7 separate regions of the Homo sapiens genome follow, and all the other regions are linked to region 1. Evidence: fine-mapped expression QTL. A gene starts in region 1. Each other region holds a variant in brackets. All regions are shown on one strand. Distances are from middle to middle.

Region 1 (4,067 bases):
GTCCCCTCTCCCCAACTGAGCTAAGATGTGGGCTATTGATGCTTTCATGCCCAGCCCAACCATGAATCAGTTGACTTCCAGTCAATCATTCCTCCTCGTACCCACCAGGAACAACACTAACAACTGAGGCAAGAATGCAAAGCCACAACCTAAAAGAAAACAGACACATTGTTCCATCTGATCTACTGACAGCTAAGACAGTCACTCCATGGAGTACACAGGAGATTCGCAGGCTGCTGCCAGGGCTCATTCTGTTCTTGTCTTTCCTATGACTTTACTCAGGATTCCATTATCAGCAACTTCACCCTCCAGCTCTCTCCATCCTCCTATGAAAGCCTCAGGGACATAGAAATAAGCTTGTCTTTGTAAAATGTGCCAGGATCTCCGTCTTAGATAAAAGACGACTATGAGAAAAGAAATTATTTCATTCCACTATGTTCCATTTGATTTCTGCTTTCAAGCAATAAACCACCATGGCTTGAGATGCTTCTAGTGTTTCATGGAGAATTGGGACTATTTCCCCAACATGCCCTGCTCTTCATTCCTCTTTGCTTCTTCCCTTTTTGACTCCTTGGACCCGAGGGGCGACCATGAGTGGCGAAATTTCTGACCAGCTAGAATACCAGGCAGGTGCAGGCTCTTGAAGCACCAAGACTGGCTCAAGAGATTGTAAATGGATCAGTCAAGTGCATGCACCACTGACGGCCAGTCAGGAGAGCTTCCATTTGTTAAAAATATAAAGGACATTCCTATCATCAAGCATCACAATTAGGCAATCTCAAAGAAAACAATATTAGCTCTACTTGGCCTATGTTACATGCTCTAAGAAAGTATTTTAGAAAAGTTTTTTTTTTCAACATAAATTTATTGAAGGATCAAACGTGTTCTCTTTCTTGGTCTCTTTAGCTCGTAAAGTCGTTTTGGGGATTTCGTGAATCTGGCAAATAAAACAAAACACCAATGAAACGCTGAGAAATGATTATTTCCCTTATGTATTTTAGCGGCCTCCAGGCAGACCTGATAAATATTCAGCGAGTGATTAGCTGGTGCATCCCCACCTGCGTCCTTTGCATAGCCATGCCCGCTACTCTTTCACAGGCAGTTTTACTTGGTAAGTTACAAACGTACTGGCTGCACTCTGCACCTGACAGTATTGCAGTAATTAGCTTGGGATGCAAAATGATTTCTAAATTAAGGTCCTGGACTTGTAAAATCAAGAAAGCCTGATAATCAACATCGTCGCTCTGGTGGCCATTGAATAACGGGATAAATACCTAAGACAAGTCCTTTAACCATCCCACGTGGTGATAAATGCCCGACGTACAAATTAAAAGTCTCTACCACACGCAGGTGAAATAAGGTATAGGTCAAGAAGAGAAGGTAGGGGAAAGGGTCAATGCTTAATTATTTAAAAATCGCTCTCTTCCTCCTGTAGGAAGGTCTAGGGGCTAGGTCTTTTAGTGCACACGTGATGAAAGTGACATTTTGGCCAGGTGAAACCTCAAGCTGGTACAGGCAGCTAAAACACGGGCGTCGTGCCCTGGAGACACCGGGGGTCCTGAGGATGGGGAAGGGGCTCCCTGCTGCGGGTGCTGAGGGGTTAGGAGGTGAGCACCGGGCGGGAGGCTCCGGGGCAGGGGCTGCGCGTGGAGCCCACTCCCGGACGCGGGCTCCTCTCGGCCCGGCACGGGTGGCGCAGGACTCCGAGCCCGTCGACAAGAGAGAGAGCGGGAGTGGGAGAAGGAAGACCGGGAGAGGAGGAGGCCGGGCGGCAAGAGCGGAAGAAGAGGAGGAGAACTGAGGCGGAGGAGGGCGAGAGGGAGGAGAGCCGGGCGCAGGAAGGGGAGGAAAGAAAAAGGCGGCGGAGGAGCGCGGACCCGCCACTCCCGGCCTCCTCCCCCGCATCCCCACTCGGGCCGGCCCTCCCCCGGCCGCCGCCGCCGCCGCCGCCGCCGCCGCCGCCGCCGCCGCCGCCTCCCCTTGCCCAGTGTTCCCAGCACCGCAAGGCACTCGCTGCCTCCTCCGCACTCGGTCCGGTCCGCTCAGCGCCGCCGCCGCCGCACCCTCGCCGCACCCCCGCGCGCGCCCGGCCCGCGCGCCCCCGCCGCTCGTCCTCGCGGCCTCGCGCTCGGGGCATGCGCGGTGGGCGGTGCCGCTCCGGGCCGCCTCTGCCGCCGCGAGTAGGAAGCGCGAGCGCCGGGCACCGGGCTGTCAGTGAGCCTGGGGCCAGCGGGCGAGCCAGCGGCTCCGGCTCCCGCTCCCGCTCCGCGCAGCACCAGCCCGACTCTCCCCGGCCCCCGCCGCGCCCCCTCGCCGCGACCTCGGCCACCGGCCCGCGCCCCGCGCCCGGGGTCGCCCCGAGCCCGCACCTCTCCCCCGCCGCCCCCGCCCACCCGGCCCTCCGCGGCCGCAGCTCCCCGGCGGAGGCAAGAGGTGGTTGGGGGGGACCATGGCTGACGTTTTCCCGGGCAACGACTCCACGGCGTCTCAGGACGTGGCCAACCGCTTCGCCCGCAAAGGGGCGCTGAGGCAGAAGAACGTGCACGAGGTGAAGGACCACAAATTCATCGCGCGCTTCTTCAAGCAGCCCACCTTCTGCAGCCACTGCACCGACTTCATCTGGTAGGTGCCGGGCCGGGCACTCCTGCCCCGCTCCTCCCCGCCTCCGGGTCCCGGCACCCGGCGCTCCGGCGCGTCCGCCCCGGGGCTGGCTCACTCCGATAACTTGGAACCGGCGGGAGTCCGAACTCTTCGCCCGGAGTGACACGCGCGCCCGGCCCTGACACCGGCGGGCAGGACTCCCGGGACGTCGCCGTCCCGCCACACACACCCCCTGGCGCGAGAGGGAGGCTGGCCCCGTACGGTGGCGAAGGGGATCCCTCTCCGGGCCGGGCCCCTCACCTCCCCGGGCGCGCCCACCCGCACGCACCCAGCGGAGCGGCCGCTTGCCGGGGTGTGAGCCCAGGGGACAGGGGAGGAGGAGAGGCCCTAAGGGGGCAAAGGTTCCCGGAGAAACGCGCCCCGGAGTAACGGGGGAGCGGCGGCGATTGCACTGCGCGCGGTCCAAGTTGCTGGCGAGCCAGGCTGGGCGCGTTCGGGGTGGGGGGGTTGTGTTTGTGCTTCCCATCGGGCTGGACTGCGCTGGCATCTTGGGCCCCTGCCTACTGTAGGCTGCATCTACTGGGCACGGAGAGACTGACTTTTCTGAGTGAGCAGAGAGAGAGAGAGCAAACTGTTGAAAGCTTGCAGTGGGGGAGGGGGAGTTCTAGCAGGCAAATGGCACAAGGGCAGAGGGACTCATTTAAAATAGACCCTGTCGGCCAGGCGCGGTGGCTCACGCCTGTAATCCCAGCACTTTGGGAGGCCGAGGCAGGCGGATCACCTAAGGTCAGTAGTTCGAGACCAGCCTGGCAAACATGGTGAAACCCCGTCTACTAAAAATACAAAATTAGCCGGGCGTGGTGGCACACGCCTGTAATCCCAGCTACTCGGGAGGCTGAGACGGGAGACTCGCTTGAACCCGGGAGGCGGAGGCTGCAGTGAGCCGAGATCGGGCCACTGCACTCCAGCCTGGGTGAGACAGAGCGAGATTCCGTCTCAAAAAAAATGAAACAGACCCTGTCAACTCGAGATTAGACCTGTAACCCTGTTGATGAGGGCAGAGGCCTTATTTAAGAAAAATAATATAAGGGCCAGAGGTCAGAGATCAGGTAATCGCCAATGAATTCAGGCATTCTTAACTCGGAGGGTCCCTGGGGGCTTATGGAGAATCGATACATAGAAGGGCTTCAGGGGTCTCTGAACCCTGTAAAACTGAGGGAAATTGTGTTTGTGAATCTTTTTCCTGGTGAGAGAATTACAGCTTTCATCTGATCCTCAAAAGGTGTGTGACCCTTCTTCCCAGATCCCCGTCACCACACAAAAGTTTTGAAAGCTGGAACTAAAGGAGCTCTAGGTCCTCTAGTTAGAGCAGCAGTAGTTTGGTTTTTCTTTTAAGTTGCCCGACGTCCTGACTCTTCTACCTCTTCTTTGTGGTGTAGGAAGTTCCGGGCAAGACAGAGCTATGG
Region 2 (4,067 bases), 510 kb after region 1:
TCTTTAAAAATGAGTTTTTAGAACAAAGCAACTGACGATTTCCTAAGATTCCAATGCCCTGGAGCTTGTAGGAGGACTTAGCCTGGGTCAGCTGGAGCACCCCCGACCTGATCTCCCACTGCCAGATTTTCCCATGCTCCTAGGGTATGGAGTCCACGTGGGAATGACTGCAAGTTCAGGTGGAACTTGGCCGACTGATGCTCTGCGAGTTTTTAATAGACACTGGGGACAACTGCTTAAGGTTTAGAAACTTCCAAACCACAGGAAAGACATTTTTAGTGTCCCCCATCCAGAGGCAGCCCTGGAATAGGATTCCCAGGGGTTTCTGGGACCCCTTTCCTTGCTCCGTGAGGCTCTGTGGCCATCTTTTGGCAGGAGGAGGATGCTTCCTTGGCTCTGTGCCCAGACCCGCCTGGTCCCCAGGTCTCTCACCTTGGGTGAAGATTCAGAGATGCCCTGTAAGGATTTTGCCCACTGGGCAACTCAGAAATACTTCGATCTCCCAAGATATAAGAGGCAGCAGCAAACGTGCCTATTGACGTCTGTTTCATAGTTACCACTTACGCGAGTAGACAGAACTCGGCTTTTCAGAAAATAGGTGTCAAGTCCACTTTATAAGAACCTTTTTTTCTAAAATAAGATAAAAGGTGGCTTTGCATTTTCTGATTAAACGACTGTGTCTTTGTCACCTCTGCTTAACTTTAGGAGTATCCATTCCTGTGATTGTAGACTTTTGTTGATATTCTTCCTGGAAGAATATCATTCTTTTCTTGAAGGGTTGGTTTACTAGAATATTCAAAATCAATCATGAAGGCAGTTACTATTTTGAGTCTAAAGGTTTTCTAAAAATTAACCTCACATCCCTTCTGTTAGGGTCTTTCAGAATATCTTTTATAAACAGAAGCATTTGAAGTCATTGCTTTTGCTACATGATTTGTGTGTGTGAAGGACATACCACGTTTAAATCATTAATTGAAAAACATCATATAAGCCCCAACTTTGTTTGGAGGAAGAGACGGAGGTTGAGGTTTTTCCTTCTGTATAAGCACCTACTGACAAAATGTAGAGGCCATTCAACCGTCAAACACCATTTGGTTATATCGCAGAGGAGACGGATGTGTAAATTACTGCATTGCTTTTTTTTTCAGTTTGTATAACCTCTAATCTCCGTTTGCATGATACGCTTTGTTAGAAACATTAATTGTAGTTTGGAAGCAAGTGTGTATGAATAAAGATAATGATCATTCCTTTGTGTAGTTGGCCTTATTTACATCCCTTTGCGGTATGGCAATTATTTTTCCTCCAGTGTTCAAAAAATAGCATTTGACTTCAGACACACTCCGCAGAACACTTTCATCTCTTCACCTGTTTTTCAGGCATGACCCTCCATTTATAGTGGCATTTTTTTTTTTTTTTTTTTTTTTTTTTTACTTAAAAAATATATCTTGCTTTGAATCAAAGCCCAGACAGTGACTGGGATGGCGTTCTGGCAGGTCCTGCGTTCATTCATTCATGCACTGTTCACAGAGCCCCTGCTTAGGGCCAGGAGTTGTGTCAGGCCCTGGAGAAGAAGAGGCTGGCATGGCCCCTGCCTGCACGGAGCTTACAGTCTT[C/G]TGCCCCAAACTGCAAGGGATGCCCAGCAACTGATGACATCATCTAAGGCTGGATGGTGCCCTTCCCCTGGAAGGAACGATTCCAGAATGAATTCTGCTCAAGTCTGGAGATGTTTTCTCCAAAAATAGGTATTTTTCACACATCCCGTTGGCCACACTGTGGATGCAGCTTCAGGACCGTCCCCACTCTGAGTGTCAGCCGCCTCGTTCTGCATTTATTCACGGTTGAAAAATTGGGGGAAATGTTCAAATGTGGAACATTCAAAAATACCCAGCACTTAACAACTCAACGCAATAGAGGGAATTGTCCTCAAAAAGAATTAAAACAGGCTGGGTATGGTGGCTGATGCCCATAATCCCAGCACTTTGGGAGGCCAAGGTGGGAGGATCACTTGAGGCCGGGAGGTCAATGCTGCAGTGAGCTACGATTGCACCACTGCACTGTAGCCTGGGTGACAGAAGGAGACCTTGTCTCTTAAAAAAAAAAATCAACAACAAACACCAAAGCCAAGATCCAACCTTGGTAAAGTCAATCTTTGCTGATTTCCTCACCTCCTTTTGGGGAATGCTCTCCCCTCGTGCTCATGGCTTCAACCCACTGCTGCCACCCTCCCTCCCATAGCCCCCTAATCCTGCAGCCGCCCAGCCCAGCCTGTTCCTCCCAGCACACTCTGCATCCACACACATGCCTCCCTGCGTTCTCTTCCCTCTGGGCCTTGCTCCCAGCCAGATTACTCGAGTGTCAGCATCCTCTCAGTGGATTTTTCCCTCCCTAAGATGCCGCGGTCACACTCAACCTCCTGGAAGTGAAGGCTCTTTCAGCTGCCAATGCGAGGGCTGGCGGGGAAGCTATTTTGAAGAAAAACAAAGGGCAATTTTCAGGTCTTCAGAGCAATGTGGTCTCTGCCCCACTGGGCTGGCCCTGACCTTCACTCCGGGCTGGTTGACCTCACATACGTGTGTAGCTGTGGCTATTCGTCACGTTACGTTGCCCAGCAGAGTAGCTTACCATGGCCATTGAGCATGCCCTCTGCTTCCGCCAGTGTGCTGTTTTATTTCATTTTTGCTGCAATGCGGAATGAAGCAGAGTGGGCCACCAAGCAGCATCCTCACAGGCAGCTGGTGACCCGAGGAACTGAGTAGCTCCACCCAAGTTTACCCCTGCAGGGAGGTCTCGGGTGTATCCAATATGGCTGGTCCTCCCGGCCCCACAGAGGCAGCAGGGACAACCTGAGCACCAGGCAGTGGACAATTGCTCTTCCAGGGGCACTGTGCGCCACCCAAAGTGGATGCTCAAAAACGAGTCCTTCTGTCCAGTACTGGCCTCCCTGTCACATGCCCACCATGCCCATCAAGTTCATGAGCAGGCACTGTTGGGGCTACTCTAAGTCAGGGTTCTCGGCCAGAGGCCATGTAGCCACCCACGGGGCACTTGGCAATGCCTGGAGACTGTTTTGGTTATCATAACTAGAAGGAAGTTGCATTGGCATCGAGTGGGTAGAGGCCAGGGGCGCTGCTAAGCATCCTGCCATGCACAGGATACCCCCAGCCCTCAACAAGGTGTCATCCCACCCAAATGTCGGCGCTGCTGCTGTTACAAACCCTATTCTAAAACACACTCCGAGTTCCCCTTCTCTCCATCTCCCCTGTTCTTTCTCTCTGGCCTCCTTGACCCTCATGGCCCTCTCTGCTCAGCAGCCAGCAGGACCTTGCCTGAGCAGGCCCCTTCCCTGTTGAAAGCCCTCTGTGGCTCCCATCACCCAGCCTTCCTCATGGCCTTTCATCCTCACATGCCCAGCTCTGGGACCAAGGATTCAATGGTTGGGGAGAGTGAGTTCTCTCTCTCTCTGTCTCTGTCTCTCTCTCTCTCTCTCTCTCTCTCTCTGTGTGTGTGTGTGTGTGTGTGTATACGCACACCCTTTCCCATGAGAATAGAAGCTCTAAGAGGAGCCGGCTTGTCCATCCTGTTTGCTGCTACATCCCAGTGCCTAGAGCAGAGCCTGGTAGATAATAGGAGCTCAAAATGTTCATTGAATGACTGAGTCAATTAATCGTTCCCAAAACTGCTCTGAGCCTAGCAACGTGTTCCAGACACCCTTACTGGGCCATGGGATTTGCCCTGGAGGTGTTCACACACTAATGAAGTAGATAAGATATACAAAAAAGAACTAATTAAAGATCATCTCTCAAACTCATGATGAGCTTCAGCCTAGGAAACACCAGTTCTCAACCTCTGTCCTTCAGCCCAGAATCTAGAGGCGATGGCTGCCTATGGTTACACTTGAGTGATTATTTAACTCCCTGAGCTTCCCCCCTGCCCCTGGCTTATTGTGTGCTCTGGGGATGAAATTATGGTTCAGCTAAAATGCTAATGCACACGGGCAAAGGCCAAGGCCATCTATTTTCACACTCTGTCCCCATCCTGGGAGTGCACATCACAGAGAGCAGGGCATT
Region 3 (4,067 bases), 150 kb after region 1:
AAATACTGCCGGTGGCTTCATTTTCTCCAGAGAACTGTCTGCACCTCTGTTCCTTTCTTTTTATTTGGGTGCCTATGATGACCTCATTGAAGTCTTCATCTTTTTCTTAGCCAATGTAGCGTTTGCTAAGGAGCCAGACCTCAGATAGGAATGGAGAGCCCCAGAATCCAGGTGCAGCACAGGTGCTTCCAGAACCTTCTATGTGGTCCCTTCGGGAAAGGATCATCTGTTTTTGTGAGGCTTAACAGGAAGACAGAACTAGGGAAGAAGCAGGGTGAGGAGGGAGAAGTGCAGCTGTGTATAGCGAGAATAAGGATCTGCCGAAATTTATCTTGGGGTTTTTATTTCCTCTTGAAATGTTGTGCGTTCTGAGAACCTCGAGGAGTGTTTTTGTTGCCTGATAGGAACTGGCCCGGCTTGTTCCTATTGCACTGAAGCCTTCAGGAATGCGGCCTCTGCACCTGTGATGAAAACAACATCCAAGAAACCCACCAGTGGGTTCCAGAACTTCCTTTCTACAGTGACTGTTTGGGTCACAAAACATAACTAGACAAAAAATTAGCTGGGCGTGGTGGCGGGTGCCTGTAGTCCCAGCTACTCAGGAGGCTGAGGCAGGAGAATGGCATGAACCTGGGAGGCGGAGCATGCAGTGAGCCGAGATGGCACCACTGCACTCCAGCCTGGATGACAGAGCGAGACTCCGTCTCAAAAACAAACAAACAAAAAAACAAACAAAACACATAACTAGAAATTATGAGGTTTATAAGGGCTGGTGTCTTAACCGCAAGTGCCTGTTTGAACCCCCATTGAGCTTGTAGCATCGAGATGTGCTGTGTGTCACATTCAGCCACATTTGTACAGTTGGTGGCATTTAGGAGTCCTGCCTGGAAGGCCAAGAATATTTTTCCCCACAGTGGCTTAGGAAATGGAACTGGAGCCCTCATTCCCCTCACTTCCCACTGGCTAGGTGGTCACGGATGTGGAAATATCCCAAGCTTGAAACCACTGAAGATGGAGCTCCTGACTTGGAACAGAGGCTCTGGGGTAAGGCAGGCATTGGGGACTTGAGGGAATCCCAGGAAAAGACTGGGAACTAGAACCCATGTGCCCTCGTACAGATCCACAGTCCCCTTGCCTTGGGTCCCGTGATCCTTTTTTTCTTTTTTTTTTTCTTTTTTTGAGATAGAGTCTTGCTTTGTCACCCAGACTGGAGCGCAGTGGCTTGATCTCAGCTCACTGCAACCTCCACCTCCTGGGTTCAAGCGATTCTCCTGCCTCAGCCTCCTAAGTAGCTGAGATTACAGGCGCCCGCCACCATGCCCAGCTAATTTTTTGTGTTTTCAGTAGAAACGTGTTTCGCCATGTTGACCAGGCTGGTCTCGAACTCCTGACCTCAGGTGATCCGCCCACCTCAGCCTCCCAAAGTGCTGGGATTATAGACGTGAGCCACTGCGCCCAGCCCCCCTGATCTTTAGAACTGCCCTGCTTGCCTCCCTTTGCGCCGCCCTCGTCTGCTGTAGGTCGAATTGGTTTAAGAGCTGGGCATCCACTGGGGAGAAAAATCAGAGTAGGGCTTCCTGGGACTCTTCTGGGTTGTTCTGACTAACATTGGGTTTTACTCAAATTTTCTCTCCCTGATGTAAACACGCAGATATTTTTTAAGGTTTTAAGTGTGACCATTTAGCTTACATGCAAGTCAGAATACTTTGGGTTTTTTCAGATCCAATAGCAGGAGCATCCAGGCTTTTAAAGCTGTGGGATATGATTTCTGTGTATTTGGGCTAAATTAATTTGTTTATTGATAACCTCAGTTGTTATCATGCTAAACTGTCAGAATTGGATGTGAAGCCAGTGCTTATGTAGACTTTATTTATGTCTGGCTTCTTTCTGAAAACAATTCCTCCTCATGCCCTAGTTTCATGTTGTGATTTTAGCAGAATTAATCTGAAATGACTCAAAATTATACAATTAATTGCATTCAGCTTCAATTACAGTCTGCTGGATGAACCAAGCCCACTGCCCTCTCTGGGCAGTCACTTGCATGTGGCAGCTTTGTAGGTGCTAAGGCCCTGTGGACTCCCTGGTCAGTGTGCTGGCTTCCTGGGGAAAGCATTTTGGGGTTGACAGTCCCAGGGGCCTAATGCCTCAGTTGCAGACAAATGCAGGCTGGACCTGGGGCTGCAAAAATGCCAGGTAACAGC[A/G]AAGACCATGGAGGTGAGTGTCATGGAATTTGGGATAAATGATAAAACATTCTTTTCTTTTTTAGTAGAAAACCCAGATTTGGGTGTTTAGGGTTGGAGAAGGCAGGATCTGGGTAGGTGTATTAGTCTGTTTTCATGCTACTGATAAAGACATACCCGAAACTGGGCAATTTACAAAAGAAAGAGGTTTAATGGACTCACAGTTCCATGTGTCTGGGGAGGCCTCACAATCATGGCGGAAGGTGAAAGGCACATCCACATGGCAGCAGACAAGAGTAAGAGCCAAGCGAAACAAGTTTCCCTTTCTAAAACCATCAGATCTCATGAGACTTCTTCACTACTACGAGAACAGTCCACCATGATTCAATTAATAACTCCCACTGGCTCCCTCCCCCAATGTGTAGGAATTTACGGGAGGTACAATTCGAGATGAGATTTGGGTGGAGACACAGCTAAACCGTATCAGTAGGTTTAAGGTTTGGAAGGTGGCCAGCCCCAGGGCAGAGAAGCTTCTACTGGAGATTCCTTCCTTTCTCCTTTTTACTCTGTGCAATTGTGGGCCCTGGGGTGAGCCAGGTGAGGGCAGGTGCCTGACCACAGGATGGAAGGGCCGGCAGATGGCGGACCCAGGCAGCAGTGGAGGGAAGGTGGGGGTTGAGGGGATGCAGAGGGCTGAGAGAAACTGGGGATGGAGGGAACTGTGGTCGACGCAGCTATAGGTCTGGACTTATTTTTCCCAGATGAGGAATATCTTTAAGTCCACATAAGTGAGTCAGGGACTGCTTGTATTCAACTTGTGCTCCTTTGAAATGTTCTTATTCTCCCCACGAACTGACTTTCATTCACACCGTCTATTTGGCAATACATGACCGAATTTGGAGCCTAGTTCTTTTTGGCAAGAAAAGTTCATTAATTTTAGTCGGCTCCCCACACACTTCACAAATGTGCTTGAAAAAATAAAGGGCCTCTTATCGCCACACAGCTGCCACGAAATTGCCAGGAGTGCTGAGTGCTCACATATAGAAGACGGCCATTTATGTTGATGCTGTGAGAAGAAAAGGTCCCCCGAAGCACTTTGAACTGGAGCTGCCAGGAAAATGATGGTAAATGCAGAAGCATCAGCGAAGCCATAGGCTTTATGATCATTTATCATTCCAAATTTCTAAGGATTATCTTCATCTCTTTTATTCTGTAAACACTGATTAACTTTTAAAGGTGATGGAAGTCTGGCTGAGTCAAACTTACTCATCCATCAACTTAGTGGACTTGGAGAAAAGGCCCTGCTGTGACATTTTGATTAACTGGGATCTTACCTGTGTGGGGTTTTCTTTCCACTTAATATCTAAGAACACAAGGGTGGGAAGAAACTTCAGTGCCTGCCTGCCTTCTGCTCTTTTCCTCATCTGTAAATGAACATCTGAGAAGGGAGTGAGACGTTCATATCAGCCTGTGCAGTAGGCCTAGCTACACTCATTTATTTGCTCTCTCTTTTCTGATTTCTCTCTGTACTGGGCTGAACAATGTTCCCTCAAAATTCATGCTCGTCCAGAACCTCACAATGTCACCTTATTTGCAAATAGGGTCTCTGCAGATGTAAATAGTTAAGGTGGTGGTAGATTAGGGTAGACACTAAATCCATTGACTGTTGTTCTCGTAAGAAGGCCAGGTGAAGACACAGAGACACACAGGAGGAAGGCCACGAGATACTGGAGGCAGAGATTGGAACGATGCATCTACAAACCGAGGAATGCCAAGATTTGCCAGGAGCCACCAGGAACTAGGAGTGAAAGATGAGGAACAGATTCTTTCTCAGAGCTTCCAGAAGGAACCAGCCCCATCAATGCCTTGATTCCAGACTTTTGTCCT
Region 4 (4,061 bases), 48 kb before region 1:
AATCACTTGAACCCAAGAGACGGAGATTGCAGTGAGTAGAGGTCATGCCACTGCACTCCAGACTGGGAAACAAGAGTGAGACTCTGTCTCAAAAAAGAAAAAAAGAAAAAAGAAAAGTATTTCTACAGTACAATATGTAAATAGTGAGAGAGAAGTTACCTTCTCACTGGTGATCACCTTGGTTCTTGCCCTCAAAGTCAATCACGGTTGCCACTCTTTTTTTTTTTTTTTTGAGACGGAGTCTCGCTCTGTCACCCAGGCTGGAGTGCAGTGGCACAATCTCGGCTCACTGCAAGCTCCGCCTCCTGGGTTCACGCCATTCTCCGGCCTCAGCCTCCCGAGTAGCTGGGACTACAGGCACCCGCCACCACGCCTGGCTAATTTTTTTGTATTTTTAGTAGAGAGGGGTTTCACCTTGTTAGCCAGGATGGTCTCGATCTCCTGACCTCATGATCCGCCCACCTCAGCCTCCCAAAGTGCTGGGATGACAGGTGTGAGCCACCACACCCGGCCAACCACTTTCTTGAGTATCCTTGGTAAACCAAAAAGTATCTGAGTCAAATCTCAACAAATTTAGAAAGTTTATTTTTGCCAAGGTTAAGGATGCAACTGACACAGCCTCAGAGGTCCTGATGACATGTGCCCAAGGTGGTCAGCAGGGGATGGGGTTGGGGGTGCAGCTTGCTTTTATACATTTTAGGGAGACACAATACATCAATCAATACATGTAAGATTAACATTGGTTTGATCTGGAAGGGTGGGACAAGTTGAAGCAGTGGCAGATTAGGGGGTGCTTCCAGGTCATAGGTAGATTTAATTATACTGTGATTAAGATAAGGGATTGTGAAGCCGGGCATGATGGCTCGTGCCTGTAATCCCAACACCTTGGGAGGCCGAGGCAGGTGGATCACCTGAGATCAGGAGTTCAAGACCAACATGGCCAACATGGCAAAACCCTGTCTCTACTAAAAGATACAAAAATTAGCCAGGCATGGTGATGGGCGCCTGTAATCCCAGCTACTTCAGAGGCTGAGGCAGCAGAATCGCTTGAACCCAGGAGGCGGAGGTTGCAGTAAGCCGAGATTGCGCCACTACACTCCAGCCTGGGTGACAGAGCAAGATTACGTCTCAAAAAGAAAAAAAAGATAAAGGGTTGTGGAGACCAAAGTTTTATCCTGCAGATGAAGCCTCCAAGTAGCAGTAACAGGCTTCAGTGAGACTAGATTGTAAATGTTTCATATCAGACTTAAAAGTCTGCATTGATGTTAATGCTGGAGGGGTATAATGAGGCATATCTGACCCCCACTTCCCCATCATGGCCTGAACAAGTCTTTCAGGCTAAATTTTAGGTGTCCTGGCCAAGGAGGAAGTCCATTCCTATGGTTGTGGGGAGGCCTTCAAAATTTTATTTTTGATTAAACCTTCTAGAAATATCCTATGCATTATGAACATTTTTATACAAATTTCAGCATATTACACATGTTGTTACTTTTTTTCTCTCTCTCTCTTTGAGATAGTCTTGCTCTGTTGCCGAGGCTGGAGTGCAGTGGCATGATCTTGACTCACTGAAACCTCTGCCTCCTGGGTTCAAGTGATTCTCCTGCATCAACCTCCAGGGTAGTTGAGACTACAGGCGCATGCACCATGACTGGCTAATTTTTGTATTTCTGGTGGAGACGGGGTTTTGCCATGTTGGTGCCAAGCC[G/A]GTCTCGAACTCCTGACCTCAGATTATTCGCCCCCCTTGGCCTCCCAAAGTGCTGGAACTACAGGTGTGAGCCACCACACCCTACCGATACACATTGTTCTTGATCATGTTTATTTCACTTAACAATGTTTTGGTGCCAGGTGTGGTGGCTCATGCCTGTAATCCCAGCACTTTGGGAGGCTGAGGCGGGCAGATCACCTGAAGTCAGGAGTTCGAGACCAGCCTAGCCAACATGGCGAAACTCTGTCTCTACCAAAAATACAAAAATTACCCGGGTGTGGTGGCATGCATCTGTAGTCCCAGCTACTTGGGAGGCTGAGCCAGGAGAATCACTTGAACCAGGGTGGCGGAGGATGCAGTGAGCCAAGATCACACCAGTGCACTCCAGCCTGGGTGACAGAGTGAGACTCTATCTAAAACAAAACAAAACAAAACAAAACAAAATATATATATATACACATATATATGTGTGTGTGTGTGTGTGTGTGTGTGTGTGTGTGTGTGTCTTGGTGATCATTTCATATCTGTAAATATAGATTTGACTTTTTTTTCAAACAACAACATGCTATACTATATCCATTGTAGGAATATGTCACAATTTATTTAACTGGTACCCTACTCATGGATGTTTAGCTTGTTTCCAATCTTCTGCTATTACCAACAGTACTGCTAGGAATATTTTTATATACATTTCTTTGTGCACATGTATAAATATATCCAAAAGATGAATTCATAAAAGTGAAATTGGTACTCCAAGGGTATGTATATTTTTCTTCTTAATATATATTCTCAAATTATCTCCTATTGGAATTTGGCAGAGATTCTGGAATTGCTTTTCATCGAGGTTGTAACACCCACCACCAACATAGGCAACACTGGCTATTTATCTCATAATGCCTCTGTGGATGTTTCCTTCAAAGAACACCAGATGGCAGAACAGACCCTAATACGTTTGCCTTGGGTAACAGGGAACTTCCGGACTTGAAGCCTCATTTTGGTTATGTAGACTGAACAAATAAAGTTGTAGAACCAGTTGTACATTAATAAATCTCTATAGATAGAAATGTATCAATTCCTCAGTAATATCATCAGTAATAGCAGATGGTAGCCTTTGCCTTTTTTCCTGTCTACCTGAAAAAAACACTAAAAAGATCCTCATCTTTCGCTCTGTAATTCTTCCCCATTACACAAACATTACTTTTTCTCCAGCTGAATAATATAGAGAACGTGCGTTAGCAATAATAATTCATGGAGTTTCATTTATGTGTGAAAGTGACTTATTTAGTTCATGTTGTTACAACAAGGAAATGTATGAGCATATGTATGTCACATAAGAATATGTCTTTAAGCAAATAGAAATGAATAATTAAAGTTGATGCCTTTACTATAAGGCTTTCATTTGTCAGAACACCAGCAAACCAATTTCACAGCAGGAAAACATTTTTTTTTTCTTTCCTGGAGAGTATGTCATCTGAGCAGAACAAATTCAATTAGCGTTGTACCTGCTTTGCAACTTATGAGAATGCTTTTATGCCTCTGGGTAGCTGCTCTCAACCCACAGCCCACAGCCCACATATACCCAATAGAGAAGGTACTCATGAACTTGTATATGCTCTTCCGTAAAACTCTTTTCAGTCTTCAGGATGTAGTACTTTTTAAATTAATCCTTCATTGCCCCAGAAGATAAACCGGTGGGAAGTTAATGAAATTGGCGTCCTAAGCTACCTGCTCAGGATCAAAATTTGCTACCTACTACAGATCTTATTATTGTCCTTCTTGAGAAATGACAGATGTCTTATTTTAAAGGTTCTAAGATAAGATGTACATAATTTTAGGGGCAGTATCATCTAGTCGCTGTAGTTCCTTGGAACACTACAAGTCCTTAAGCTAAACAGGAAGAGACTCTGCCACAAAGAAGGCAACATTGAGATTAATGAAGATTTATTGGCTAGGCGCGGTGGCTCACGCCTGTAATCCCAGCATTTTTGGAGGCCAAGGTGTGTGGATCACTTGAGACCAGGAGTTTGAGACCAGCCTGGCCAACGTGACTTAATCCCGTCTCTACTAAAAACACACACAAAATTAGCCGGGCATGGTGGCAGGCACCTGTAATCCCAGCTACTCCGGAGGCTGAGGCAGGAGGATTGCTTGAACCTGGGAGGCAGTGGTTGCAGTGAACCAAGATCATGCCACTTCACTCCAGCCTGAGTGACAAAGCGAGACTCCATCTAAAAAAAAAAAGAAAAAGAAAAAAAAAAGATTTATTAAGTACTAGATCTTTCCCAACTGCCATATCACGTTACAACATTTTATCAGGCAAAAGTTATCGTGCCCCTGTTTCAGATTAGGAAACTGT
Region 5 (4,067 bases), 520 kb after region 1:
TCTTTATAAACTACTCAGTCTCAGGTGTTCTGTTATAGCAACACAAAATGGATAAAGACAGAAAACTGGTACCAAGAGTGGGGTGTTGCTATAAAGATACCTGAAAATGTGGAAGTGGCTTTTGGAACAGGATAATGAGCAGAGGTTAGAAGAGTTTGAAGGAACAGGCATTAAAGAGATTGCATTGCTTGGAGTGGAGCATTAAGGACAATTCTGGTGAGGGCTTAGAAGATAAGCTGGAACTTCTAAGAGACTGGTTAAGTGTTTATGACCAGAATGCCAATAGAAACGTGGACAGTAAAGGCCATGATAATGAGGTGTCAGATGGAAATGATGATGACACCAATGCTTACCACTTAGGCTCTTTGGAGTGGAGGCATGAGTCGAACCTGGGGCTGCTTGAGCAGGAAGCAGTCACAAAGCAGTGCAGGGCTGGGGCATCCATGTCCACTTGGTACTAGTTCTGCAGGCCAGGTGTGCAGAAACCAAGAGTGGTAGAAGTGTGGTGGCTTCCACCTAGATTTCACAGATATATCAAAATGCCTGGGAGCCCAGGGAGAAACCTGCCACCACAGACAGTTCTCACTGAGGCAATGCCTAGTGTGGAGCAGGGTCACCATTGGGACCCCAGAACTATAGAGCCATTGGCAGCATACAACATCCATCTGGCAAAACCACAGGCACCCAACTGCAACCCATGGAAGTAGCCACATGGGCTGCACCCAACAAAGACATGGCAGCATACTAGACATAAAGGCCTGAGGCCTTTGCAAGCCCAGCCCTGGAACCAGCGCCTCCAGGTTGTGGGACATAGAGACAAAGGAGATTATTATGAAGCTTTAAGATTTAATGTTTGGCCAGGTGTGGTGGCTCATGCCTGTAATCCCAGCACTTTGGGAGGCTGAGGCGGGCGGATCATGAGGTCAGGAGATCGAGACCATCCTGGCTAACATGGTGAAACCTCGTCTCTACTAAAAATACAAAAAATTAGCCGGGTGTGGTGGCGGGCACCTGTAGTCCCAGCTACTCAGGAGGCTGAGGCAGGAGAATGGTGTGAACCCAAGAGGCGGAGCTTTCAGTGAGCTGAGATGGCACCACTGCACTCCAGTCTGGGTAACAGAGTGAGACTGTCTCAAAAAAAAAAAAAAAAGATTTAATGTCTGCCCTGCTGTGTTTCAGACTTGTGTGGGGCCTGTTACTCTTTTCTATTGGCCTATTTGTCTCTTTTGGGACGGGAATATTTACCAAATGTCTGCGCCACTGTTTTGTCTTGGAAGCAGATAACTTGCTTTTTATTTTACAGGCTCATAGCTGGAAGGAGCTTGCCTTAGGTCTCAGATGAGACTTTGGACTTTTAAGTTGATGCTGAAACAAGTCAAGACTTTGAAGCCTATTGGGATGCACTGATTGTATTTTTCATGGGAAAAGGACATGAGTTTCATGGGGCCAGGGGCAGAATGCTGTGGTCTGGATGTAGTTTGTCCTCACCAAAACTCATGTTGAAAGTTGATCTCCAGTGTGGCAGCGTTTGAGAATTGGGAGCCAGTGCGAGGTGTTTGGGTCATGGGGCAGATCCCTCATGAATGGCATGGTGCTCTTCTCAAAGTAGGGAGTGAGTTCTCTCAGGAATAGATTAGTTCCCTCCTGAGCGGGCTGTGTGAAAGCCAGGATGCCCCTCGGGTTTTGCCCCTTTTCAGGTGTCTGCTTCCCCTTTGACGTTCTGCCATGTGGTGACGCGGCACAAAAGCCCTCACTGAAACCAGGGCCATGGCCTTGAACTTCTCAGCCTGCAGAACAATAAGCTAAAGAAACCTCTTTTCTTTATAAATCACCCAGCCTCAGGCATTCTGTTACAGCAATATTAAACAAACTACAACACATCCCTTTTCCGCAAGAGTCAACAAAATTGCTGTTGTTGATTCTCAAACTTGGCTTTGCATTTTCTAACAGCCAATAAAAGTGGGAACCATGGTCACTTATGTGATTGTCATTACTGGAAAAGAGGAAGCATATGTGTTCCTTTGGGAAATAAAGCTTTTCCTAGCACTGAATCCAAAAGGAATTTCTTGAGTATAATTTTATTACCTAGAAAAGACACCAAGCAATATCAGAAATGATGTCCTCAACAACATTTTGAAGTTTTGTTGAAACAATAAATGCACTATCAAATTTCATAAAGCCTTTTTTTAGTGTTCTTCGTCAAGTTTGGGGCATATTAAAATACAACTTCATGAAGGTGACCGACCAAGAAACTCAACCCAAGTCTCCAGGTAAATAACCAATTATCTAGTCCAACTTGGTCCAAAAAAAGAATTTAGAATTCCTGGAGGAAAAGAACAATGAAATACCATGTTTTTATCTGTTAACTTGGCAGAAAATATGCTTTCTTGAAAGATTAAATCCCAATTTTGGCAAGAATTGGGAAAGTCTGCCCTCTCATGCCCTGTGGGTGGGAATATAAATTGGTAC[A/G]ATCTTTTTTAGAGGGCAATTTGGCACTAAGTAACAAGAGTCTTAAAAATGTGCTTACACACAGCAATTCTGCTTTGGGGGATCTTTTTCCTCTAAAGAAATAACCAAAAATGCACCAAAGACTTAGGTACGAGATGTTTGTTTTGCTCCGCCTCTTTGGGTGGCAGTAAACACAGATGGACCCAACCAGGGGCTGGCGCTGGAAATCTCTGGAGCCAAGGCAGTTCTGGGCTGGAAATCTCTAGAGCCAAGGCAGCTCTGGGAGATGGATTTTTTTTCTCTCACTCATGTAAGCTCCTCAGCCTCTTTCTCTTTTTGGAACTTTTTATTTTGGAATAATTTAAGACTCAAAATAATTTGCCAAAATAGTTCCCCTGTACCCTTCGCCCAGCTTCTTCAATGATAACACCTTACTTAACATTAGTACATTATTAAAACCAGAAAAGGGACACAGTAGAATTTTTTTTTTTTTGAGACGGAGTCTCGCCCTGTCACCCACCAGGCTGGAGTGCAGCAGTGCGATCTCGGCTCACTGTAACCTCTGCCTCCTGGGTTCAAGCAATTCTCCTGCCTCAGCCTCCGGAGTAGCTGGGATTACAGGAGAGCACCATCATGCCTGACTAACTTTTTTGTATTTCTTTTTTTTTTTTTAAATAGAGATGGGGTTAGAATACTCTTAACTAAACTATAGGCCTTATTTGAATTTCACCAGGTTTTACATACACAATACACTCATTATGTGTGTGTGTGTGTGTGTGTGTGTGTGACTATGAAATCATATGTATAGATTCATGTAACCACCACCATAATCAAGATCCAGAACTCTTCTATCCAGAAAGAAATTCACCGATGCTACCCCTTTGTCATCTTGCCCCACCCCCCACCGTAGCCCCTGGCAACCACAGCTCTGTTCCCCATCACTGTAATTTTGTCATTTCAGGAGTGTGATATAAATGGAAGCACACAGGATATAACCTTTAACCTCCTGGTGCATTTCTTCCTCCCCAGCCTGCATTTTCTCAAAAGGTCAACCGACCACAACTTCTTCTGGCCCCTCCTTAGCCTCTGATCATGCTTTTCACATCAGCGTCCATTGATGAGTGGGTCTCACCTGGTACTTTTGCCCTGAGAGAGGGAATCCTATGGCCCGGTGCATGTGTGGGTCCGGCCATGTCATCGGTCACTGACAAGTTGGCTGGATTTACTGTCAGGGGTCAGGCTCCCATGTCTGGTCCATTCATCTGTGGCGGAGCGGAGCAAGCTGTTTGACACAAAACAGGGCCACCTTGCCCATCCCGTCATCAAAGAGATGAACAAAGGGAGATCCCTTCTGAGAAGGGCTCTGCTAGGCGGATGCTTTAACTGCTATATCTACTTCACAGGTCATTGGAAAGAGCCTAAATTCTTGCTAATAGAACTCCAGTTTGGGGCTGATTTATGATAACCATGCCCTCCCTGGATCCTCCAGGGCCCCAGGGCATGGATGCTCTTGGGCATAAGCCCGTCATGGGAATTCCATTTTCCTTACCAGTGGCTGGTTTAGGCAGAGCCTGTGAGACACAACGAGACCCAAGTGAGAACTCCGAGGAGCCATTCTT
Region 6 (4,067 bases), 67 kb after region 1:
TTATGAGACTATGCTCACAAACCTAAAGTGAACAGGTGAAAGACCCTCTGCAAAATAGCTGCTCAATAAACTGTTGCATGCTAATCCTAAATAAGCACTTAAGAGGTATCAGTTACAATGAATTCCCTGTGTTTATAAAATAACTTACAGGTGCAGTTCCTCTTCATAGGGAGTAACATGAATGAGTAACATCACATCACCATACTGTTCTGAGAGGTACTTGGCAGATTGGTCAATACTGTGAACTCAGAACTCCAACCGTGGGATCCCAGCCATCCATTCAGTGGCATTTCTACCAGAACATCTGTGTAAGAGATTGAAGGTTAATTTTGGCAATTCTTACCTTGTACAGAATTCTGTGCATTTTAAGTTAAATTACTGTAGGTGATTGGGGATTTTGAAAATCTAGGCTCAATTGTTGACAATTCCAGTGACCTTTGGTCTGGAGCAAATCCCTTAGCCTATATATATACACACATATATGTGTGTGTGTGTGTGTTTATCTATATGTGTGTGTATATATGTGTGTGTGTGTGTGTGTGTATATGTATATATATATATATATATATATTTTTTTTTTTTTTTTTTTTTTTTTGGAGACAGGGTCTCTGTCACCCAGGCTGGAGTGCAGTGGTGCGATCTCGACTCAAGGCAACCTCCATCTCCCAGGCTCAAGTGATCCTCCCACCTCAGCCTCCTGAGTAGCTGGGACTACAGGCATACACCACCACATCCGGCTAATTTTTGTATTTTTTTGTAGAGACGGGATTGCGCTATGTTGTCCAGGCTGGTCTCGAACTCCTGAGCTCAAGTAATCTGCCCACCCCAGCCTCCCAAAGTGCTGAGATTACAGGCATAAGCCACCATGCCTGGTCTCTTAGCCTGCATATTTCATGTTTCTCGTTCATAATATAAAGACAGAAAAGGTGCTTCCTATGGGAAGATAGATGTGGACACAATTTCACAAATTAAGTTTTATACAAATGTAAAGTACTGCAATTCATGTTGACCTCTCAGCTTAGTTGGTTTTAGAGTAAAGGGGTTAGCTAGAGGCCTGAGTCTTGCTCCCTGGCCTGGCCCAAATTACCTGACCCAGGAGACATCTCAACCTCTCTAGCTTTTAGTTTCGTAATCTGTAGATCGTGAGGGGGGTTGACTCCATGATTCCGTGAGCTTTCTTCTCAAGCATCTCATTCTAGAATATTCCATCGGTCCTTTTCTGTCACCTTCTTCCCAAGTGGTTGTGAAAGGGTGGCTTGTAGGCATTAGGCCAGAGCTGTGTGTTAGCCATAATTCAGATAATACAGCTTATAATTCAGCTTGTGTTGATCAGAAACTCTGCCTAAGGGAAGGCCCAGGTAAAACCTGTAAAGTCCTGGAGTTTCATCACAGATGATGCTATTGCAGAGCCTCCAAGATTTTGCCTCTTTTTTATGAGCTTTGGTGACTACCCCAGCCTAATGAGGTCCAAGATATCCCAGTACTTCCACGGGAGGATCATGTGAAGATTGCTGTCTGGTTCCAAAATTCCCTCCTAAAACAGCAAGGGTGGCACCTGGGGAGGAGGAGGGACCTGGGGGAGGAGGAGGGACCTGTGAGAGGGGTATCAGTGATTCTGCAGGTGATTCCTCCTCTTCCTGTCCTCTTATTAAAATTCCCTGAGGCTGACTTCAGCTAGATGTTGATCAGATTAAAGCAGTTGGTGCTGGGATGGATTAATAAGCTTGAAATTTTTTAACTTGGATGCCTTGAGGTACTTATTTCATCCCCAAGCATTTTCCATCTCTATCCCAACTAGTCCAGTAAAACCTGTGGCATTGCTGAGCAATAAGCAATGCACCTGCCCGTTTTCACTATTGGATCTGGCTCTGTCCACTCTTTTCTGGGAGAACAGAGGGGATGGGTGGCGTGATGGCCCACTGAGTGCTGGGCTTCTCCATCCTCCATCTGAGTTGGCTGCATTCCTGTCCCAGGTGTCCTCTGCCTCTGTTGAGCCCCTGCCACTGCTACCTCCAAGTGTCCTTCCTTCCCTCCACATGCAGAATGGAGCTTTCCATCCCCAAAGAACTCGAGCAGCCTGTTTGCATCACTGCCAGGAGACCTGTTTGGTACTG[C/G]CAAGCACTGCAGGTATTTCTAGCTCAGTTGTCTTATCATTAGGGTGAACATATTTATCCTCTAAACCAGGACACTTTTGAAAGTGAAGGGAGGAGAGCCATTAATAATTAAGCTGGGACAACAGTCATAAACCAGGATTGTCTGGGCAGACTCAAACATGTGGTCGCCCTACTTGTTCCCTGTACTTGATGGAAGCCTTCCTGACGGTAAGGACAGTCCTTCCACATCCCCTCAACCTCCACAGTGGCACAGACATAATTATATTGAATGAAGCGATAAATAAAGCTATTTTGATACTTTTTTTTTTTTTTTTTTTTTGAGATGGAGTCTTGCTCTGTCGCCCAGGCTGGAGTGCAGTGGCATGATCTCGGCTTACTGCAACCTCTGCCTCCCGGGTTCAAGCAATTTTCCTGCCTCAGCCTCTGGAGTAGCTGGGACTACGGGTGCACACCACCATAGCTGGCTATTTTGATAAGCTTTAATGACAGGGATGGCGAACAGTGGTTAACAGTTAGTGAGGCATTGCCAGGTGCAGTATGTGAGGTCAGCACTTTGTATAATTATTTAATCTTCACAATAGCGCTATAGATTTGATACTATTTTTTTTCTTTTCTTTTCTTTTTTTTTTTTTTTTTTTTGAGACAGGGTCTCACTCTGTCGCCCAAGATGCGTGTAGTGGTGTGATCATAGGTCACTGCAACCTGGAACTCCCAGGCTCAAGCAATCCTTCCACCTCAGACTCCCAAGTAGCTGGGACTACAGGTGCATGCCACCATGCCCGGCTAACATTTTATGTTTTGTAGAGACGGGGTCTCATTATGTTGCCCAGGCTGGTCTTGAACTCCTGGACTCAAGCGATCCACCACTGCCCATCCTATTTTTCTGTTTTTCAGAGAAGAATATTGATGCCTAGAGAAGTTAAGTTGCTTGAGAGCAGAGAGTAAGCAGCAAAGCTAGGGTTCAAACCCAGAGTGTAATCTCATAGGTGCTGTATTATACAGATAAGCTAGATGCAGGGGCAGGCTGGTTTGTAAGAGGGCATGTTGCCTGTAGCATTTCTCCTTAGTGAATCTCCGAAACAAATCACATCCTGTTTATTTCCAACAAAAGAGAACAAATTTGGGATTATATCTGATTATAGCATGCGAGTAGCAAATAAGATATGATGTATGTATTTTTGCAGTTTTTTCTTTCCAAGTTCCCCCATCTTTGGCCAAAATATCACATTTTAAACCAATGAAGAGTTAAATCTAGAGTTAATCACTTAGCATCAGCAGTGCAGCCAGAATTCTCATCTCCTGATTCTAAAACTGCCTGACCCTACCCTGGAGTCACTGATCAGGTTGAGAGGAGTTCAGAATGAAGAGAGAATTGTTTCAACCACCTGTTCTGCATGAGAGCCTTTCACCATTTTCTGTGTGTTTGTGAAATGACCATTCTGAAGTTCAGATCCACATATAAGACTCATTCAAAATGATCTTCCTCAATGGAAACCGGGGGTGAGATTTGAACCTGAGAGAGACAGTCTGCTCTGGTTGATGAACAGCATAGCTCTGGACCCAGACTGCCTGGGTTTACATCTCAGCTCTGCCACTTCTAACTTTGTGATTCAGGCAAATTATTTAACTCCCAGTTTTTTTATCTGTAACATGGGGATAATAACAGCATAAGAGCACTAGCCACACTGGATGGCTATAAGATTGAAATCAATTACTATGTGTAAAAATCTTAGAATAGGGCCTGGCATAAAGCGACACTGTGACTGTTTTATCTGTAATATATATGTTGCTTTTTAAAGGCCACTAGGTGATACATTAGAGCAGGCAGGGTGCCATCGAATGACCCAACCCTTTGTCATCTGGCAATATTGCCTAAAATCCAGACGGTGGATTTTCACCTTCAAAGTGGTTCTTTGGGCACAAGGCAAGTCTTCCGAAACTCCCTACTTGATG
Region 7 (4,067 bases), 120 kb after region 1:
GTAGTAAACATAATGCGTCCTCAGTCAGTGTTTGTTGAAGGGGTAAACAAACCCCATTCTGGGTTGTGTTCTTTTTTTTTTTTTTTTTTTTTTAAATATGAGACGGAGTCTTGCTCTGTCACCAGGCTGGAATACAGTGGCGCAATCTCGGCTCACTGCAGCCTCCGCCTCCTGAGTTCAAGCGATTCCCCTGCCTCAGCCTCCCAAGTAGCTGGGACTGCAGAAGTATGCCACCACGCCCGGCTAATTTTGTATTTTTAGTAGAGACGGAGTTTCACCATGTTGGCCAGGATGGTCTTGATCTCCTGACCTGGTGATCCACCTGCCTTGGCCTCCCAAAGTGCTAGGATGACAGGCGTGAACCACCACACCTGGCCAGGGGACATGTTCTTAAAGTTTATGAAGCATCAGCTTTGTCTAAGCTTTAGTCAAGAGTCAGAACTAATACAGATGGTCCCAACTTAGCATGGTTTGGCTTAAGATTTTTCAACTTCATGACGGTGTAAAAGTGATAGAAATTCAGTAGAAATTGTACTTCAAGTACCTGTACGACCATTCTGTTTTTCATTTTTCAGCACAGCATTCAGTAAATACACAAGATACTTAACATTTTATTATCAAATAGGCTTTGCATGAGATGATTTTACCCAACTGTAGGCTCATGTAAGTGTTCTGTGGACGGTTAAGGTAGGCTCGGCTACGATATGGTGTTAGGTGTATTAAATGCACGACAATACTTTCAATATATGGTGGTTTTTCGGGATGTAACCCATTCTAGGTTGAGGAGCATGGAGCATTTGTAGTCAGAGGGAAGAAAAGACATTTGGAGGATTTTGACTGGCGATTTTTATCATTTTGAGACCAGTTTTGGACTAAGAAGACAGTCAAATCAATGTTCTCTTTTGGCCTGAAGTTTTGGAATTCAGTGATGTCGTTGTCCCCTGCATTCCCCTCCTTTGTGGAATTTCAAAACCCCCTTCACATAATGAGAGAAATTAACCCTGAAGAAAGAAAGGACTGGAATTTCTACTAGCTTGTTGATAATGCATTATTGTTATGCTGTCATGGGAAACCTGTCTTCCTAGGTTCTAAATTGGTGGATGACTGTCTGGTGACGGAGTCCAAGCGTCATTGCACAATGAAGATGAAAAACGCATGTTGGATGGCTACTCCAGTGAAGTTGAAAAATGCTTGCCTGATAAAATGCTTGCCTGATGGCTACTCCAGTTGGGCACATGCATACTGCCTTCTGCTTTTGCTCAGGAGGAAGATAAGTGAAACTAAAGGATTTTGGTTGAGTAATTTAGAGAGAGAGTAAAAAGATTTTGGTGTTTGTCATGGGAGTTCACAGGCTCTTCTAATGGAACAGAGAACTGCTTTAGGGGCCAGTTTCAGGTTTTTGCCTTTCTGGAAGGAAGGGGCAGTCCCTTTTCCCTTTGACCACTTACCTCTATTGTCAGTTTGTGTAATTATGTCAGAACTCAGCCACAGCCTCTGTTTTTTTTTTTTTTTTTTTTATAGCTCTATCAAGTGATTTTCAGCTTTATAGGGAAAGATAGCTCTGAAATTTTCTTTCTTCTTTCTTCTCTTCTCTTCTCTTCTCTTTTCTTTCTTTTTTTGAGACAGAGTCTTACTCTATTATTCAGGCTGGAGTATAGTGGCACCATCTCAGCTCACTGCAGCCTCCATCTCCCAGGTTCAAGCAATTCTCCTGCCTCAGCCTCCCAGGTAGCTGGGATTACAGGCACCCGCCACCAGGCCTGGCTA[AT/A]TTTTTTTTTTTTTTTTTCTTTTAGTGGAGACTGGGTTTCATCATGTTGGCCAGGCTTGTCTCCAACTCCTGGCCTCAAGTGATCCACCCGCCTTGGCCTCCCAAAGTGTTGGGATTACAGGTGTGAACCACCATGCCTGGCCTTGAAATTTCTTTTTCTCTACTTTTTCCTTTTTACCCACTGTTTAGTTTGCTAGGGCTGCTGTGACAGAGTACCACAGACTGGGTAGCTTAAACAGCAGAAGTTTATTTTTTCACAATTCTGGTGGCTAGATGTTTAAGATCAAGGTGTCAGCAGGGGGTTGGTTTTGTCTGGAGCTTCTCTCCTTGCCTCGTCGATGCCATCTCCTCCTTGTATCTTTACGTGGTTTTCTCTCTGTCCTTGTTTGTCATAATCTCTTCTCATAAAGATCCCAGTCCTACCAGATTAGGGCCCACCTTAATGACCTCATATAACCCTCTTGCCTTTCTAAAAGGTCCTATTTCCAAATAAGGTCACATTCTGAGATACTGGGGATTGGGACTTTAACATGAGTGATTTGAGGGGAGACTAACATGAATTTTTGGGGGGTGAGGTTCAGCTCATAACACCCACTTCACTTTTTCGTAGTACATTGGCAGTTCTGTTTCAAGAGCTCAGTTAATAATTATTTGATGTGTCATGGATTAGAACATGAAACAGGAATTTTGTTTTATTCATAAAACTGTATCCCTAGCACCTAGAGCATAGCGTAAGCCCTCAATAAATATAGGTTGGATATTATTGGATGAATACATGTCATATCTGGAAGAAGGATAAAGGAATGCCCTGAAGACATGTTAGTTTCAAAATGTTCTAAAGGCCCAGAAGGGCAGTGAGGATTTTCACTGGCTTCAGGGCTCTGTGCAATAATATAGAAATAGAGAATCTCACACTGAAGCCAGTCAACAGGACCAACTTCTTTTAGCCAGTCCTGTCTTTCCAGCAGCATCATGCAATCTAGGACATAAGAGAGCCCGTGTCAAACCATTTTTATATACCGTGACACTCTTATTTTTAACACAGTGGTTGGATTATTTATAAGCAATCTTGGATTCATTCAATAACCACAGGTAGATAGTGCTCTCACCTCATTAAAGCATTATTGCAGGCCGGGCATGGTGGCTCACACCTGTAATCCTAGCGCTTTGGGAGGCTGAGGCAGGTGGATCGCCTGAGGTCAGGAGTTCGAGACCAGCCTGGCCAACATGGTGAAACCCCGTCTCTACTAAAAATAGAAAAATTAGCTGAGCATAGTGGCAGGCACCTGTAATCCTAGCTACTCGGGAGGCTGAGGCAGGAGAATCGCTTGAACCAGGGAGGTGGAGGTTGCAGTGAGCCCAGATCACGCCATTGCACTCCAGCCTGGGTGATAAAAGCGAGACCTTGTCTCAAAAAAAAAAAGTATTATTGCAGAGAAGGAGGTACTCTTAGAACTCTGGACTCTGTTAGCAAAAGCGTTGGGGATTGATAGTGATTTAATTTTATTCATGATGCTGAGAGAGTCTCACCGGAATGCAGCGAGGATTTTGCCCCTCATGTCATCAAGCTGGTAGTACTTTGTTTTATGCCCGGTTTCTTGTCTGATGCAACCTTTTATGCACCATAGTGAAAAGTTGTGCTTAACATGTTTATGATCCCATATTTGGAAATCTTGCCTTATTTGGATTTTGCAGGTTTGATAGTTTGATAATTCAGAGAGGTTGGACTCAAATTTTTATCTATAAACAAGGGATTTACTAACAATAGTTTGGAATGATATGACTAAGAAAGATGTTCATTACTTACAGATCTCTTTAGAAGCATCATTTACATACAATAATTACCTGACTCAGAAGAAAGTCCCCTAGGGAAGTCATCTGACAGTCCTGGTCACTGTCTGTGCTTTAAAGCTGGCTGTTACTGAAGCCTTTAATGCATACTGTTTTTCTTCCCAGGTAATCTGCAATAGTAATTATGGTTTAGTTGAGTGGCCTCCCCCAGTTGAGAAACACAATCATACCATGCAGTAAAAAATATTTAAAGCACACTTATAGTTCTAGAACTTTGCATGGATAACTCTAATTAGTCTGGGAGCGCTTCCCTGGAGCCGAATGTGTTTAAGAATTCAATCTTTTAAGTGCCGGTGATGTCAGTTTGGAGACAGCAGTATGTGGCTCCATTCCACCGTGAATCCTTTGCTAGCTGCAGTGTACTTTAGCTAATAGAATCAAGTGCTTGTCTTCAAGTTTTTTAAGAGCATAAAAACCCTGTTTATTAAAACAATTCTCTTTGGCACTT

Evidence for each region.
Region 2: its variant is fine-mapped to the expression of PRKCA in blood mononuclear cells (TOPMed, PIP above 0.99). The same link has a PIP of 0.9 or more in anterior cingulate cortex, breast, cerebral cortex, tibial nerve, visceral fat and whole blood.
Region 3: its variant is fine-mapped to the expression of PRKCA in whole blood (TOPMed, PIP 0.98).
Region 4: its variant is fine-mapped to the expression of PRKCA in whole blood (TOPMed, PIP 0.98).
Region 5: its variant is fine-mapped to the expression of PRKCA in T cells (TOPMed, PIP above 0.99). The same link has a PIP of 0.9 or more in sigmoid colon.
Region 6: its variant is fine-mapped to the expression of PRKCA in whole blood (INTERVAL, PIP above 0.99).
Region 7: its variant is fine-mapped to the expression of PRKCA in whole blood (INTERVAL, PIP 0.97).

What each region holds. Positions count from the first base shown.
Region 1 is chr17:66,300,403-66,304,469 of GRCh38, forward strand. PRKCA (protein kinase C alpha) reads left to right here and starts at 2,211. Exons shown (of 17, transcript NM_002737.3): 1 at 2,211-2,622. The coding sequence starts at 2,450. RefSeq lists an enhancer at 3,005-3,506.
Region 2 is chr17:66,809,497-66,813,563 of GRCh38, forward strand. It overlaps PRKCA (protein kinase C alpha), which reads left to right. Exons shown (of 17, transcript NM_002737.3): 17 at 1-1,247. Among named protein-coding and RNA genes, the nearest start is that of CACNG5, 24 kb to the right of the region's middle. The variant C/G (reference allele first, on the strand shown) is at 1,614.
Region 3 is chr17:66,452,157-66,456,223 of GRCh38, forward strand. All of the region lies in intron 2 of PRKCA (protein kinase C alpha), which reads left to right. Among named protein-coding and RNA genes, the nearest start is that of PRKCA-AS1, 37 kb to the left of the region's middle. The variant A/G (reference allele first, on the strand shown) is at 2,202.
Region 4 is chr17:66,252,595-66,256,655 of GRCh38, forward strand. No RefSeq gene overlaps it. Among named protein-coding and RNA genes, the nearest start is that of APOH, 25 kb to the left of the region's middle. The variant G/A (reference allele first, on the strand shown) is at 1,706.
Region 5 is chr17:66,817,878-66,821,944 of GRCh38, forward strand. No RefSeq gene overlaps it. Among named protein-coding and RNA genes, the nearest start is that of CACNG5, 15 kb to the right of the region's middle. The variant A/G (reference allele first, on the strand shown) is at 2,470.
Region 6 is chr17:66,367,817-66,371,883 of GRCh38, forward strand. The region is part of intron 2 of PRKCA (protein kinase C alpha); the gene reads left to right. Among named protein-coding and RNA genes, the nearest start is that of PRKCA-AS1, 47 kb to the right of the region's middle. The variant C/G (reference allele first, on the strand shown) is at 2,115.
Region 7 is chr17:66,419,932-66,423,998 of GRCh38, forward strand. The region is part of intron 2 of PRKCA (protein kinase C alpha); the gene reads left to right. Among named protein-coding and RNA genes, the nearest start is that of PRKCA-AS1, 5.1 kb to the left of the region's middle. The variant AT/A (reference allele first, on the strand shown) is at 1,768.